Homo sapiens: one gene and its partner. The protein of the gene in region 2 interacts with the protein of the main gene of each other region in a pairwise test. Each region holds a gene or a part of one and is shown on either strand. Other genes may lie near its edges.

Region 1 (7,035 bases), on a different chromosome or scaffold from region 2:
AGCTGAGACTACAGGCATGTGTCACCATGCCTGGCTAATTTTTGTATTTTTTGTAGAAACAAGGTTTCACCATGTTGCCCAGGCTGGTCTTGAACTCCTGGGCTCAAGCAATCCACCACCCACCTTGGCCTCCCAAAGTGCTAGGATAACAGGCATGAGCCACCGGGCCCAGCCGAGAAACATTTAAAAGTAGACTAAAAAGTCTCAGGCTGGGGCTATTAATGCTACCCCAAAAGATGTGATATATATGTCTAGCTTTTTATTTTCAGGAAAAGTTTCAAAACATTTACTGAAATAATAAGTGGTAAAGTTGTAAGCTCTGTTTGGAGAACTTTTAATAAGTTTAACATTTTATGTAACCTTCTAACCATTGTTGATGTTGGTGAAGTATTCCCCTCATTCGTAAATATAAACCATATGATGGGTGCCTTGTGATGCCCCAGACTTAAAGGTGTGAAATAAAAATGAACTCAAGTCTTTGCCTGAGGTGCCTGGTACCTAGTTCTCTAGTTTTGTCAATATCTGACTAAACACTCTGGTTTCTGATTGACTTTTGCCCCTGGACTTGACCTTTCTGGCACCCACATCCACACCCTGAAGAGCATGTATTGTCTGTTGTGTGGGGATACCTGTTACTGGCCAATTTGCCACAGCTTCTCAGATATCTGACAGAGGCTGATGCCTGGCCTACTCTCCTGTTATGGCTGCCTAGCCTCTGCCCAGTCCCCTTACATTAGGATGGAGCTGAGGAGGAATGGAATAGAATAACAAGATGAGTTGCTGCAAAAATACTTCAGCCTCTGAAAGTCTGTCTTTCCAAGTTGTTAGGAACTGAAAGTGTCTATTGATCGGGGAGCTGGCTGGGCTAGTGGTATAAGCTAATGATAAGACCAGGTTGGGCTGGGCATGGTGGCTCATGCCTATAATCCCTGCACTTTGGGAGGCCGAGGCAGGTGGATCACTTGAGGTCAGGAGTTCAAGACCAGCCTGACCAACATGGTGAAACCCCATCTCTACTAAAAAAAAATACAAAATTAGCCGAGCAGGGTGGCGCACACCTATAATCCCAGCTACTTGGGAGGCTGAGGCAGGGGAATTGCTTGAACCTGGGAGGCAGAGGTTGCAGTGAACCGAGATCACACCACAGGACTCCGGCCTGGGCAACAAGAGAGAAACTCCATCTCCAAAAAAAAAAAAAAAGACCAGGTGAATGGGGAATACAGTGCCTGCTAGAAGGGTGCAGTTGAAGGAATAAGTTAAGAATATGTGCCAGATTTCAAAAGCTGGAGCCAAATGGGGATGATGTGTTGCTGGAAGTCCTAGCCTAACAGAGTCTTTCAGGAAGGGCAGAGCCAAAGGTCTCAGTCAACATCAGGGTCCATTCATGTGGGAGAATGGCTAATCACAGCTTGCTAATTTCAACTACCATCTGTTATGACTCCTCAAAGCACTAAGTATGCAGTAGTTGACATATGAATGGTGTTAGGGTTGGGGGAGGGGGCCAGCCTCCTGATTTCTAATTTCTAGCTGCATATTACTACAGGAAGGGGAGTAAGACCACCACATCAGGTACCAGAATTTCACTACTGTCAACACTTTGTGTTTGAAAGAAAGCCATAGATCCCTGTGACCACTGGATGCTGAGTGACCTCACAGACAACATCAGCAAAGCAGGATTGTGTACAAACACACATTTTGTAAATATTTTGATATTTGACATTTCAAAAAAAGCATCAAAGGAGACAGCCTGGGAAAAGTTAGACTTTGTTGAGCTTTCTCAACCTTAATTTTGTATTTTGTTATTTTTTTCTATTTTAATTTCACATGGGAGTAATAATTCAAATTTGAGGCACTATAGTCTTTTCAGAGCTTAGGTCATCTAAAGATCTGAGCCTGGCCTTGTTGAGCCATGATGAGCAGATGTGGACTGAGCACACAGTCTCACACAGGCAGCTCTTACACTAGTTGAGTATTTTAATCCCTGAGGTTTTAGAATTGTCATAGCACAGGTGTGCAAGCTCCTTTCTCCCCATGGGTCAGCATCATGAATGTTCTGTCACTCTCCTTAGAGAGTTTTGCAGAAATACCACATCATATTCACCAAAACTAAGAATTCATAGTAATAGGGCTTTATAATTTCTCACACTGAAATCCCCTAATTTCTTGTCAAGAACCAAGTTGGAAAATACCACACTTCAGGGTTTTGTTTTTAACTCAAGAAGCTTCTGGTTTTCATCAGAACTTTAAAGCTCCCTCCTACCTCCAAAATAGTATTGTTAGAAAATGTAATGCTGAGACTCTGTCAGAATAAGTAGGTGATATATGCAAAATGATATGGGCAACTTAGAAAAGTGCATGTCAAGGTAAACTGCTGATAAAGGCCGGGAGTGGTGGCTCACACCGGAAATCCCAGCACTTTGGGAGGCTGAGGTGCGCAGATTGCTTGAGGCCAGGAGTTCAAGACCAGCCCAGCCAAAATCGTGAAGCCCTGCCTCTACTAAAAATACAAAAATTAGCTGGGCTTGGTGGCACATGCCTGTAATCCCAGCTTCTTGGGAGGCTGAGGTATGAGAATTGGTTGAACCCAGGAGGCGGAGGTTGTGGTGAGCCACGACTGGGCCACTGTACTCCAGCCTAGGCAACAGAGGAAAAAAAAAAAAAAGTGTTGATAAAAAATAATCATCATAATTATGGTCAGTATTGGTGCTTTGACTTTTGATATTGTTATTATCATTATTTTAAAGATTTTTTTGTCTTTCTAAATTGACTTTCATCTGGGAGCCTTAGCATCACTTCTAACTAGCCAAAGCATGTTTGATTGTAGGCCAGACTCCCCATGGAGAGGCTTCTGATCTTATTCACAGGGACATTTAACCTGGGGTTCACTGAAACCTTTGAGGAATGATGGATGAGTCATCTCTCTGCCAAAAGAAGATGATTCCTGGCATTCTATGGGGCTCCCAGTGCATTGGGATAAGGAGGCTTGGAAACTCCTCCACGGAGGCATTGACCTTGGGTAGTGCCTTCCAAGCCAGAGTGGAGAGAGTGGACCCCTCATCTTTGTCCAAAAGAGCATTAGTATAACCCCTCACCCCAACCCCACCCCATTCTCTCCTTTTTAAAAAGAGAGAAGAATATATACAAGAAAAAAATTGGAAAAAATACATCAAAATGTTAAAAATTGTTGAGATGGTATTTTATGTGGTGTTTTGCCCCCATTTAACATTATGTTGTAAACATTTTACCAAATCACTAGATGGTCTTTGAAAACATGATTTTTAATGGCTCTATTTCCATTGCACTGATACATTTTAATGTATCAGTTTTTTGTTGTTGGACATTTTGATTCACTTTAGTGTTCTACTATTTTTAAAGTTTCTAATGCATATTGGTGAATTGGCCCCTAGAAAGGTACGAATGTCTATTTCAAAACCTTGGTCTTTTTTAGTTTCTCACATTAAAATGCATGCTGCTAGGCCCCAGTGGTATTGGAAGCTCTGAGGAGGAGCCTGGGGATATGCATTTTAACCTGCCCTCCCAATTCTTCTGCATTAATGCCTGAGAACTATTGACATGCTGCATTCAGTTCAACAAATATTCAGTTGGCAAACATTTATTAGACAAAAAAAATTAGGAAACTCTGAGCTAGTATGTCTATGCCAGAATTTAACTTAAAGTCTTTTTTTGGCTTCTGATTTTTAGATTTTCCTTTAACTGTAATATGATGTAGTAAAAAGATTATTAGCTAGGGAATCAAGAAACCATATTGTACACATGAAATCACTGAGGCCCATAATGGTTCATTTACTTCCTGGTGGTCACTCAGAGATTTAATGGCAAAGGTTGAACTAGACAAAGGGCCCAGAGTCACCCAACCTTTAGGTAAGAGACAAAAGGCGCCAATGAGAAGATTCACTCCTGAGGCAACGCCCTGCCTCAGCCAAGGAGCTCTTACCTGCCCTCAGATAGGCATGCCCGTACTTCAAGACACTCTTGGGCAGCCTAGACCTAGCAAGGGGCCCACGTGCCCATCTTGGTCACCTAATGGGGCCAGACTGTGGTGTGCCCTGATCCCTGAGGTGGTAGCACTGAAGAAGCTGGACCCAGGAGGACAGAGGGCAGCCGTGCAGGCAGCATCCATGTGATCAGCATCACAAGAGCAGAGTAGGAGGTGGGATCTGGGGTCAGAAACCAAGACAGCGGAGCAGGGTCAGGGCAAGTGCCAGACTAAAATATGTGGGCAAATTTGAGGTCAAGGCAGGGATGAGTTGAAAGGAAGACAAGCAAGAGCTAGAGGGGAACTGCTGAGGATTTGGCCTCAAGGATGGAGTCCCACTGTGTGACCTCACAGTCAGGGGAGGTACCTGCCCCAAGCCGTGCCTGCCTTTTTAAATCTGAAAGGTGCTGTGTGCTGGGCTGCCTTCTGACAGCAGGAGAGTAGGAGCACAGCCTGAGAGGCGGCAGGCCAGAGCAGGAGGAACCTGAAAATGGAAATTTAGGAAACAATGGAAAAAACAATTATAGCAACAAAAAACCATTTTCTTTAAACTCTCACCATCCTCTAAGAGGAAGTCTGACTATTCATCCTGCCTGCATAACCCTGCTGAAACCCATCAACCCACACCCACTGATCACCTGACAGTGTCTGACTGCCCGGCTTCCTCTCATCCCACCACCTCAATTTCCAGAGCCCACCAAGGCATCACTTGACTTTCAAGTTCTGCCTGGACAGACTGCTCAGCTCCCTACCCGCCCCAGTTCACGTTCAGGTTCTTGAAATCAACTTTAGTTTCCTCCATGCCTACATCTATGCTGATCCCCTGCAAAGGCACCTGGTGACACACAAGAGCCAGAACCCAAAGGAGCTCCTCCACAGGATCCTCCCAGGGCTTAGCCACCAGGGAATTTTGTTGATGATCCCCAAGCTTCACTGCCCCATGCAAGTCTCCATTATCTCAAGGTTATCCCTGTTCAGGATCACTACTCTCCTGATTCTTGGCCTCCTAGTCCAAACTCATGGCTCCAGGGTCATGATGAGTAAGAGTTCTGGAAAAGTCTACAACCTCCCTTGAACCAGAGGTACCTTGAATCAGATGGAGGGTGACTTTCCAAGAATGCCTGGGCCGGTTCAAGTCTTCACTATAATGTTTGCCTTATGTAAAACCCATCACCTTGTTGTCCTGCACAACTTTCTTGAGTGAAGCACCTCTGATACTCAGATGACATTCTAATTGCTCACGAGACCTGGACCCCTGGGCCAGGAAAGCCCATGTGGTGGTGACAGCAGTGCTTCCAAATCTCACCCACAGGAGACAAAAATAGGAGTTCCATGGCATCCAGACAAGGTGTCCACATGCTGCTGGAGAGTCTTGGGTGGTCACAGAGTACAAAGTTCAAGGGCAAAGATTGTTCAGTGGGTCCCAAGATTTGACAAGTGCTACTGGTGGTCCCACCCTTGCCTCTCTACATTGATTCCATGTCCCACTTCCTCTCACACTATGCTGATAACGATCTAACCTGAGAAATTAAAAGTATTCACACAGCCTCTGGCCAAAGCTACAGGAAGACCCTGGCCCAGGCAAACTCTGTTCCTGCCCCACAGCTGTCATTTCACCTGCCCTACCCCATGGGAGCATGTACCACTGGTATCAAGTCTTCCTGCTGGGCCAAGAGGCACTGCCTCAAAGAGGCCCAGCATCCCCAGATAGCAATGTCCCACCACTGCAGTCAGGAGCAACTGGGCAAACCCAAAGACTCAGCCCCCCCATCCAGAAAGACCATCCCATTTTCCATCGCCTAAGTGCCAGACAGCCCAAACTGCTGTGTAGACAGCTACCAGGAAAACTGGAGCAATGAGAGACATCTGAGGTCACCCCAGCTAAGCTCAGAAGGCCACAGAGCTTAACTGCCTTCTTGACTGTGGCCCATCAAAAGGAGCCCGACACATCTAGTAGATGGCTTAAATAAAAAATACTGAGGTTACCAAATGCTGGCAAACATGTGGGGACACTGGATCTCTCCTACATTGCCTGTAGGAATGTAAAATGGTACAGCCACTCTAGGAAACTGTTTGGCAGTTTCTTATAAAAGTTAAACATATACTTACCACGTGATCCAGCAATCCTACTCATGGGTATTTACACAAGAGAAATGAAAACTTATGTTCACGCAATAAACTTTACATGAACATTTATAGCAGCTTTATTTGTAATACCTAAAAACTGGAAAATAGCCAAATGTTTTTCAGCAAGTTAGTGGGTAACACACTGGTACATCCACACCTTGAAATACTATTCAGCAATAAAAAGGCATGTGCTCTTTACATACAATTCAAATGGATCACAAGGGCATTATGCTGAAAGCCAATCTCAAAGAGTTATATGCTACATGATTCCATTTAGAGAACGTTCTTGGACTGACAAAATCACAGTGATAGGCCATGCACGGTGGCTCATGCTTGTAATCCCAGCACTTTGGGAGGCTGAGGCAGGAGTGCCCAGGAGTTCGAGACCAGCCAGGGTAACACAGGGAGACCCGCATCTCTACAAAAATTTACAAAACTAGCGGGATATGTGGGCGTGCACCTGTGGTCTCAGCTACTTGAGAGGCTGAGATGGGAAGACTGCTTGAGCCCAGGAGTTTGAGGCTGCAGTAAGCCATGATTTTGCCATTGCACCCCCAGCCTGGGTGACAGAGCGAGACCCTGTCTCAACAAGCAAAAAAAAAAAAAAATTACAGTGATAGAGAACAGATCAGTGGTTGTCAGGATGGGTGTGATTATCAGAGGAGGAGCACAGGGAACTGTGGTGGTGACTATTCTCTATTCTGATGGTGATGGTCATCACTCCAGCCTGCACATGTGATACGTTGCATAGAACTGTAGACATACAGGTACACACACACACACACAGAGTGCATGTAAAAACTGGTAAAATCACATAAGACTGTATCTGCGTTTATTTGAACTATACCAGCATCTGTTTCTTGGTTTAGCCCAAGTACTACAGCGATGTAAGACAACACTGGGGGAAGGTG
Region 2 (7,666 bases):
TTTATTCCTTAACTACAACCACCATATTTCCACATGGCCTTAAAAACAGATTAAACAGAAATTTTTTTCTGAAAACTTTTCTTTCAAAGCAGTATTTACAGTATCATCCAGCAGAAGAACCTGTACTTTATAACTTACAAATTTTACCACTACAAAATTCATACAGTATCATAAGGCCAAAAAAGGAACTAAAAACTTAATGCATTTTAGAATAATTAGGGACACTGTGCCCTCTCCTAAGCATATATACCCACCATTTTTGTCCTTTAGTAGTTTATTGATGATGTTACTAAGGTCGGCAATTTCAGAGGCAGCAGGGATTGAGAAGGGAACATCATCTACGGCATATCTATAAAAAGGAAATGATATGTCAAGATCAAGTCTACAGATATTTGAACAAACATGCTTTTACGAATTCAACATACATTTATTGGGTAAATAAATGCCAGACATCCAGACATTTTGCTACATGTTGTAAACAAAAATGAATTAAAACATGGTCTCTGTTCTAAGATGAGGTTGAAGTTTAGTAATCAAATAGAATGAAGTTATATAAGAACAATGCCATTAGGTGACATGTATAAAAAGAACAAAGACACCATAGGTCATTTTAACCACAGAAAAGGAGGGCAGGGGAGCAGGGCCAGAAACGATCCACAGAAAAGATAACTGTTAAGCAACATTTAGAAAAGTGATTAGCCAGGCGTGGTGGCATGTGCCCGTAGTCCCAGCTACTTGGGAGGCTGAGGTGGGAGGACTGCCTGAGCCCAGGAGGTCGAGGCTGCAGTGAGCTGAGATTATACCACTGCACTGCACTCCAGCCTGGGTGACACAGCAAGACCCTGTCTCAAAAGAGAAGTGAGTTTTTGCCAGGTGAGGGAAGGGTAGGCTGGAAGAAGCAGTGTGGACGAAACCAGAGAGAACATCAAAACAATAGCTAGGAGTTGTTAAACTGCCCAGCCACTTCCAGAAAATCTGACTTTGCTCCAAAGTGACCAAAGGCTAAAGAGATACACATGGAGTGCTTTATATATCATGTGAAATCATTTTTACTTCTTTTTTGTGGGTAATGAAGAACTATCACAGCAGTGCAAATTAGAAGTATCATCAGATTTTATTTAGTTAGATCTTTCTGGCTGCACAATGGGCACTGAAATAGAGGAACACATGACAGGAGGCAGATTAGGAGACTCTTATAAGAGAGACTGTGAGAAAATATTTGCAAATCATGTATCTAATAAGGAACTTGTATCTAGACTATATTAAGAACACTTACAACTCAATAATAAAAAGACAACACAAATTTTAAAATGGCCCAATAGGGACATGCAAATGCTCATCATTAGTCATCCAGGTAATGTTAATCAAACACAATGAAATATAATTTCACATCCACTAGGGTGCTATAAGTAAAAAGACAGCTAATAACAAGTGTCAGTGAAAATATGGAGCAATTGGAACCCTGATTATTGCTGGCAGTAACGTAAAATGGTGCAGTTGCTTTGGAAAACAGTCTGGCAGTTCCTCAAAAACTCAAACATGGAATTACATCTGACCCAAAAACTCCACTCCTAAGCATATATGCAAGAGAAACGAAAACATACATCCACACGAAAACTTGTACGAGTGTTCACATAACAACTATTCATAATAGCTAAAAGGTATAAACAACCTAAATGCCCACCAGCTGATGAATGGAAAAATATGGTACCTCCATTCAATGGCCTATTATTTGGCCACAAAAAGGAATGAAGTGCTAATATATACTATGATATAATGAAACCATTTTTTAAAAATCATAGTAAGTGAAAGAAGCCAGTCACAAAAGATCACATTATATAATTCCATTTATTCAAAACGTCCAGAAGAGAGAAAGTTACAGAGCTAGAAAGTAGATCAGTGGTTGCCTAGGGCTGGGGGTATTATTTAACAAACAGCTCAAGGATGATGAAAAATGTTCTAAAATTGACTGTGGTGATGGTTGCACAACTTTGCAAATATGATGCTGATGATCCTCAAACCACACTTTGAGCAATAAGGCTATAGCTATATATTTATGTATATAATTCACATATATGTATATTCTTGTGTGTGTGTGTGACAATTATATTAGCCCCCCGCCTCCATTTTACTGACCATAATATTAAGCAAAAAGAAAAAGCAAGAATTTTATTATTTATTTATTTATTTATTTATTTATTTGAGATAGAGTCTCACTATGTTCCCCAGGCTGGAGTGCAGTTGCATTGATCCTGGCTCACTGCAACCTCTGCCTCTCAGGCTCAAGAGATCCTCCCACCTCAGCCTCCCAAGTAGCTGGGACCACAGGTGGGCACCACCATGCCTGGCAAATTTTTTGTATTTTTGGTAGAGACGGGGTTTCATCATGTTGCTCAGGCTGGTCTCAAACTCCTGAGATAAGCGATTTGCGTTCCTCAGCCTCCCAGACTGTTGGGATTACAGACATGAGCCACAGCACTCGGCAAAGAATTTTAATTTCTACATTTTTTTACCTTTTGGAGGGCCTAAATTCACACACACACATATGACATGTATCCATTCATTTCAGGGGTTAAAACACAGTGGCCTATTATCTCTTACAACTTCATGTGAATCAACAATTATCTCAAGGCTGGACGCAGTGGGTCATGCCTGTAATTCCAGGACTTTGGGAGACCGAGGTGGGCGGATCACTTGAGGCCAGGAGTTCGAGACCAGCATGGCCACCAAGACAAATTCCTGTCTCTACTAAAAATACAAAAATTAGCCAGGCTTGGTGGCACATGCCTGTAATTCCAGCTACTCTGGAGGCTGAGGCGGGAAGATTGTTTGAACCCGGGAGACAGAGGTTACAGTGAGCCAAGATCCCACCACTGCAGTCCAGCCTGGGCAACAGAGTGAGACTCTGTCTCCAAAAAAACCAAACCAAACAAACAAAAAAAAGCCCCACATATTTCAAAAAATTTTATTTTAAGAAAAACAAAAAAACCTACTTTCAATTAAAAAACACAGTGGTTATGTTAATGCATCACCACATTCCTAGAGAAGTATTAAGGCAATGTATGTAAGTAAGTACATATACTCAGGTGCATTGATAATACGATTTATGTATACTTTCAGCAACAACACAAGGGGAGAGAAGATGATTTACTAGCTCTCCTCATAAAGCTACAAACAAAACCACAGATGTAACTCAGGTGGGAGTTTCCTAGTTTATGGCTAACTTTAGCTTATTAACACGACAAATATTATCATTTTCACTGAAAAATTTGACATTTTTTGTTGACTCAGCCAATCCAAGAAGCTTAATTAATATATAGTCCCTGCCCTCAAGAGACTTCCAATATAGTTGGAAGAGACCAGGCAAACACAAAGAAAGCTAACAATGCAATATATACCACAAGGCAGCATATAATTAGTTTTCGAATGAGTGCTAACAGACCTTGAGACCACTGGTTAAAATGTTTATATATCTATATAGATATACATAAATGGTAAATATGTTTTTTCATTTTCAAAAACTTTTTTTCCGTTTTCAAAAACTGTGAACCACCACTAGCAGACACCCTATAACAAGGCCCACTGTTCATTTTTAAATTACACATATAAAATGTTTCATTCAGAAAGCAAACCTGAAGCCCTTCAGCCTCCTCCACACTCACAATTCAAATTATATAGAACCTACGAAGCTGGTTAGAAAGCAGGTAATCTCAGAAAAAAGGGTGGGGGTGACAGCAGAAACAACCAGGGATCCACAAGGTCATACCAAAGGGGTGGTCGGAAAGGAACCTGGGGAAGGGAGAGAAGGCTGGAACGCTTACTTACTTCTTGTTATCAGTGTAGAAGCGTGTTTGGAGCTGAGCCATGGCGAGGAGTACACACGACTTGCCCACGGAAACGTACGGGTTAGCAGACCCACAACACGAAGCTCCTGCCTTTTAAGACTACAAAGAGGCAGCTCAAAATTAGACTGCACAGGTAAGCGAGGAACTGCAGTCTAAGCCTGGACTCTGCCTTCTGCCCTCCGGTCTCCTCTGCAGAAAGCACGAGGTTGCCCTTCTACAGACGCCCAGACCACAAACATCGACTACCTACTCCTAGATTTAGGAGTCATCGATTAGAAAAGGATAGTCGTAAAGGTAGCATGTCCCTTTAATCATTGTTAGAATTCTTCCCATACGTGTGGGCCCGTAATCGATTAGGAAAAAGATCCCACTCAAATCCGCTTTATTAATAAAAAATTTTTTTTCAAGAGGCTGTCCTGAGCCTGGATAGTTCAAACACAGCTCCTAGTTACTACAAGTCTCAGAAAGCATCGCTTCTCAAACGCTGTGACCACCGGGAATTGTAGTCTTTTTTTGCCACGCTGCCCTCAGAGTATCTTATTTGCATTAAATCCTCTAGACTCCAGCCAGATATCAAATTTCCTCTGCCTTCAGCTTTGCTTGACTAACGCCTTGCCAGTTTTTTTTTCTCATACATATTCCCAACCAGAGGCTCACTCGGCAGAGGTTTTTCCTAAATCTCGCCTCTAACTGCGGCTTTTAGAGAGAGGCGAGAGGCGGAAATACAAAGAAAAGAACGGATGAGAGAGGAAACGGTCGACGGTGGCCGATAGTGGTCCTACTGTCGTGGGACTGCTCTGCGCGCTCCCGGTGGGGCGCGCCTGCGCATTATGCTGGTCTCCATGGCGGGGCCTCGGAGCCAAGACGAGGTTGAGTAGACTCGTTTTGAATTTTCTCCCCTCTGCTCCGGCGGACTTCCCATGTCGCCTTGTGGGGCTATCGGCGGCGGCAGGACTGGGGGAGTCAGAGGTCTGGCAGCGCTGTCTGCGCAGACCTACCGGACGCTACCTCCCAACCCCCCGTCTTCCTCCTGCCTCCTCCTCCTCCCGTCACCTCCTGACCCGCCGGAGCTCCGAGCAACTGCCGGCCTCCGCCCCCAGCCGCAGCCGGTCACTGGCGGCGCCTTCCGCGCCAAGCTTGGGGGCCTTTTCGGGGTCCCACATGGCACGGCTTCCGACCCCCGGCCCGGGACGGGGCTCGCAGGCCCCAGAGGGGCAGGCTGGAGAAGGAGGAGGTTAGGTGTCTTCAGGAGGGTTGCTGAGCCCAAGGACGCGCCATCGCCGCGGAGAAGGAGCCGGACCCCTTGGGCGGAGCGCCCAATGTGTGGTCCCTCACGCCGTCCCGCACCTTGCTTTTTAGGGTTCTTTTTCCGCTTTCTGAGCCCTTTTATACCTTACGTTTAGAAGGGGAAAATCATCCTCCCACACCTTCTCCCCGACTTTTTGCCTTTTTTGTCTTGAAGTTACCCAAAGGCCTGTGTATTGTTCTCAATGGTCCCAAGAATTACTCTAATATAGTTGTTTTTCTGAGGGAGGATGGATGGAGATAACTATCCTGATCCCAATGTCACTTTTTAAGGCATTCGCTTCAAGAGACAAGCAGTTTAGAATCAGGCAGAACTGGATTGCAAAATTTATGGGCAGACCGGTATGTGTGCAGGTGAAGACAAAGCTTTCCTTTTTTACGTTGTTTAAAGATGTCCTACTGTAAGGTAGACGCCTAATGTTTAAATGAACGCCTAATATTTAAATAGAGAATGAGAAGAGATTTAAACAATTGGAAGAAAAAATAATTTTTATTAGAGAGCAATGACAATAAAAGTAGGACTCTTTTCAGTTTACTCACCTTTGTAGCTCCGAATCCGGGCCCTGGAACCAGAATTCCTGGGTTCAAATCCTGCCTCTGCTACTTGATTAACCTTTTTGTGCCACACTTTTATCAACTATAAGAATTAACTGCGGCATCGGAAGCACTCAGTATATGTTAATTATTATCATCAAATAGTTACTAATTCCAGTTTAACTAGAAGCTTTGCCAGCGTGAATAGATAAGGGAGAATAGCCACATTGAGTGGAGGAATAAAATTAGAAAACCTCTGTGCTGAAGTCCCAGGAGATCACTTATTAGGCTTGAGCTTGCTAATGGAAGTGGTGATCGTTTAACCATGTGGTTATTGTAGTGGTGAGGATTTACACATTAAATAAGTCTTGGGCATCTGAAGCTTGAAACACTTTCTTAATGAAATCTTGCCGTTGAATCTGTACTTACTGGTAATATGTCATTGGTTAAAATATATTTATAAAATGTATAATTGACCAGCAGGTTAATACATTTTTATCATTAATTTGAAATTTATCAAAATGAGAATATACAGTACCTGACAGTAGAGTTTGATCTTAATTTGATTTGAAAATTATGATCAGGAAAATAACCTGAATATATGCTTAATAATATAAGACTTTCAGTTTGCAAAACAGAAATCCTGACTTGACTAAAATACACTTTTCATTTGACGGAGACCTTTAGTTAAGGAAAGATTAGTTTTAGCATTCAACATAACTAAATACCCAGCATTATGTTTTACGGTTTTTTTCAACAATGATTTATGTGTCGTGTTTGGTGTTGCCTCCAAACAGTACCTAGGATAGCTGATGCTTTTACTTTGAGTCTTTTTCTTTAGTTGGAACATTAATTGCAAGCTTTTGGTTGGTAATCATTTTTTATGGGATGTATTTACTATATGGTCCTCATGGAGACACATTGTTATCTGGAGAACCACAGTTTGGAAAATACATTTCTCTTTATTATAAAGTTTTTTGTTTTATATATATAATGCCACAGTGTGATAGGATACAAAGACTATGCATTAGGGCTTTGGAGTCTTAATTGTTCTTTGTGTTTTTCTTTTTTTCCAATTTGATTATGGATCCAAGCCTAATGCACTCTGTGATCTTAAGCAAGTTTCTTGACAGTTCCAGTTTTCTTATCTACAAACAGAGACAAGAAGATCTACCTCAGAGTCATTGTAAGGATTAAATAAATTTGTAAAGCTCTCAAAGAGCAGCCTAATCCCAGCATTTTGGGTGGCTGAGGCGGGTGGAGCACCTGAGGTCAGGAGTTTGAGACCAGCCTGGCCAACATGGTGAAACCCCGTCTCTGCTAAAAATACAAAAATTGGCCAGGCATGGTGGGGGGTGCCTATAATCCGAGCTACTGGGGAGGCTGAGGCAGGAGAATTGCTTGAACCTGGAAGGTGGAGTTTGCAGTAAGCCAAGATCACGCCACTTCACTCCAGCCTGGGCAAAAAGAGTGAAACTCCATCTCAAAAAAAAAAAACAAACAAAAAATCAGAGCAAAAAGGTAAAAAGTTTGTGCAGAGTAAAACATGGGTAGAAATGGATTGCAGGGAAGCTTATAGTGAGAATAAACCATAAATAAAATTGACATTGTGAACACCAGCCTTAGATTTTTTTTCCCTGAAAATTAAAAAGTGCTTTTTTTTATTTTTTTATTTTTTGAGTTGGAGGGTTTTTTGGTGGTGGTGGTGGTGTTTGTTGTTTTGTTTTTGGTTTTTTGTTTTTTTTCAGAGTCTCCCTCTGTCGCGAGGCTGGAGTGCAGTGGCGCTATCTTAGCTCACTGCAACCTCCGCCTTCCAGGTTGAAGCGATTCTCCTGCCTCAGCTTCCCGAGTAGCTGGGACTACAGGTGCCTGCCACCATGCCCGGCTAATTTTTTGTATTTTAGTAGAGAAGGGGTTTCACCATGTTGGCCGGGATGGTCTCGATCCCCTGACCTTGTGATCTTCCCACCTCGGCCTTCAAA

Evidence for each region. Proteins that work in one complex are often made in the same cells at the same time.
Region 1: the proteins of CARF (region 2) and ZBTB38 interact in binary tests that used the Homo sapiens proteins (3 or more experiments, as listed by UniProt).

The regions. Positions count from the first base shown.
Region 1 is NC_000003.12:141,371,469-141,378,503, forward strand, and holds part of ZBTB38 (zinc finger and BTB domain-containing protein 38), read left to right. Parts: intron 1-7,035. UniProt on the Homo sapiens protein: Transcriptional regulator with bimodal DNA-binding specificity. Binds with a higher affinity to methylated CpG dinucleotides in the consensus sequence 5'-CGCG-3' but can also bind to E-box elements (5'-CACGTG-3').
Region 2 is NC_000002.12:202,907,611-202,915,276, forward strand, and holds the start of CARF (calcium-responsive transcription factor), read left to right. Parts: upstream 1-4,664; 5' UTR 4,665-5,492; exon of another isoform or gene 5,493-5,504; intron 5,505-7,666. Other genes in the region: ribosome biogenesis protein WDR12, read right to left, coding at 255-349, 3,826-3,866. UniProt on the Homo sapiens protein: Acts as a transcriptional activator that mediates the calcium- and neuron-selective induction of BDNF exon III transcription. Binds to the consensus calcium-response element CaRE1 5'-CTATTTCGAG-3' sequence.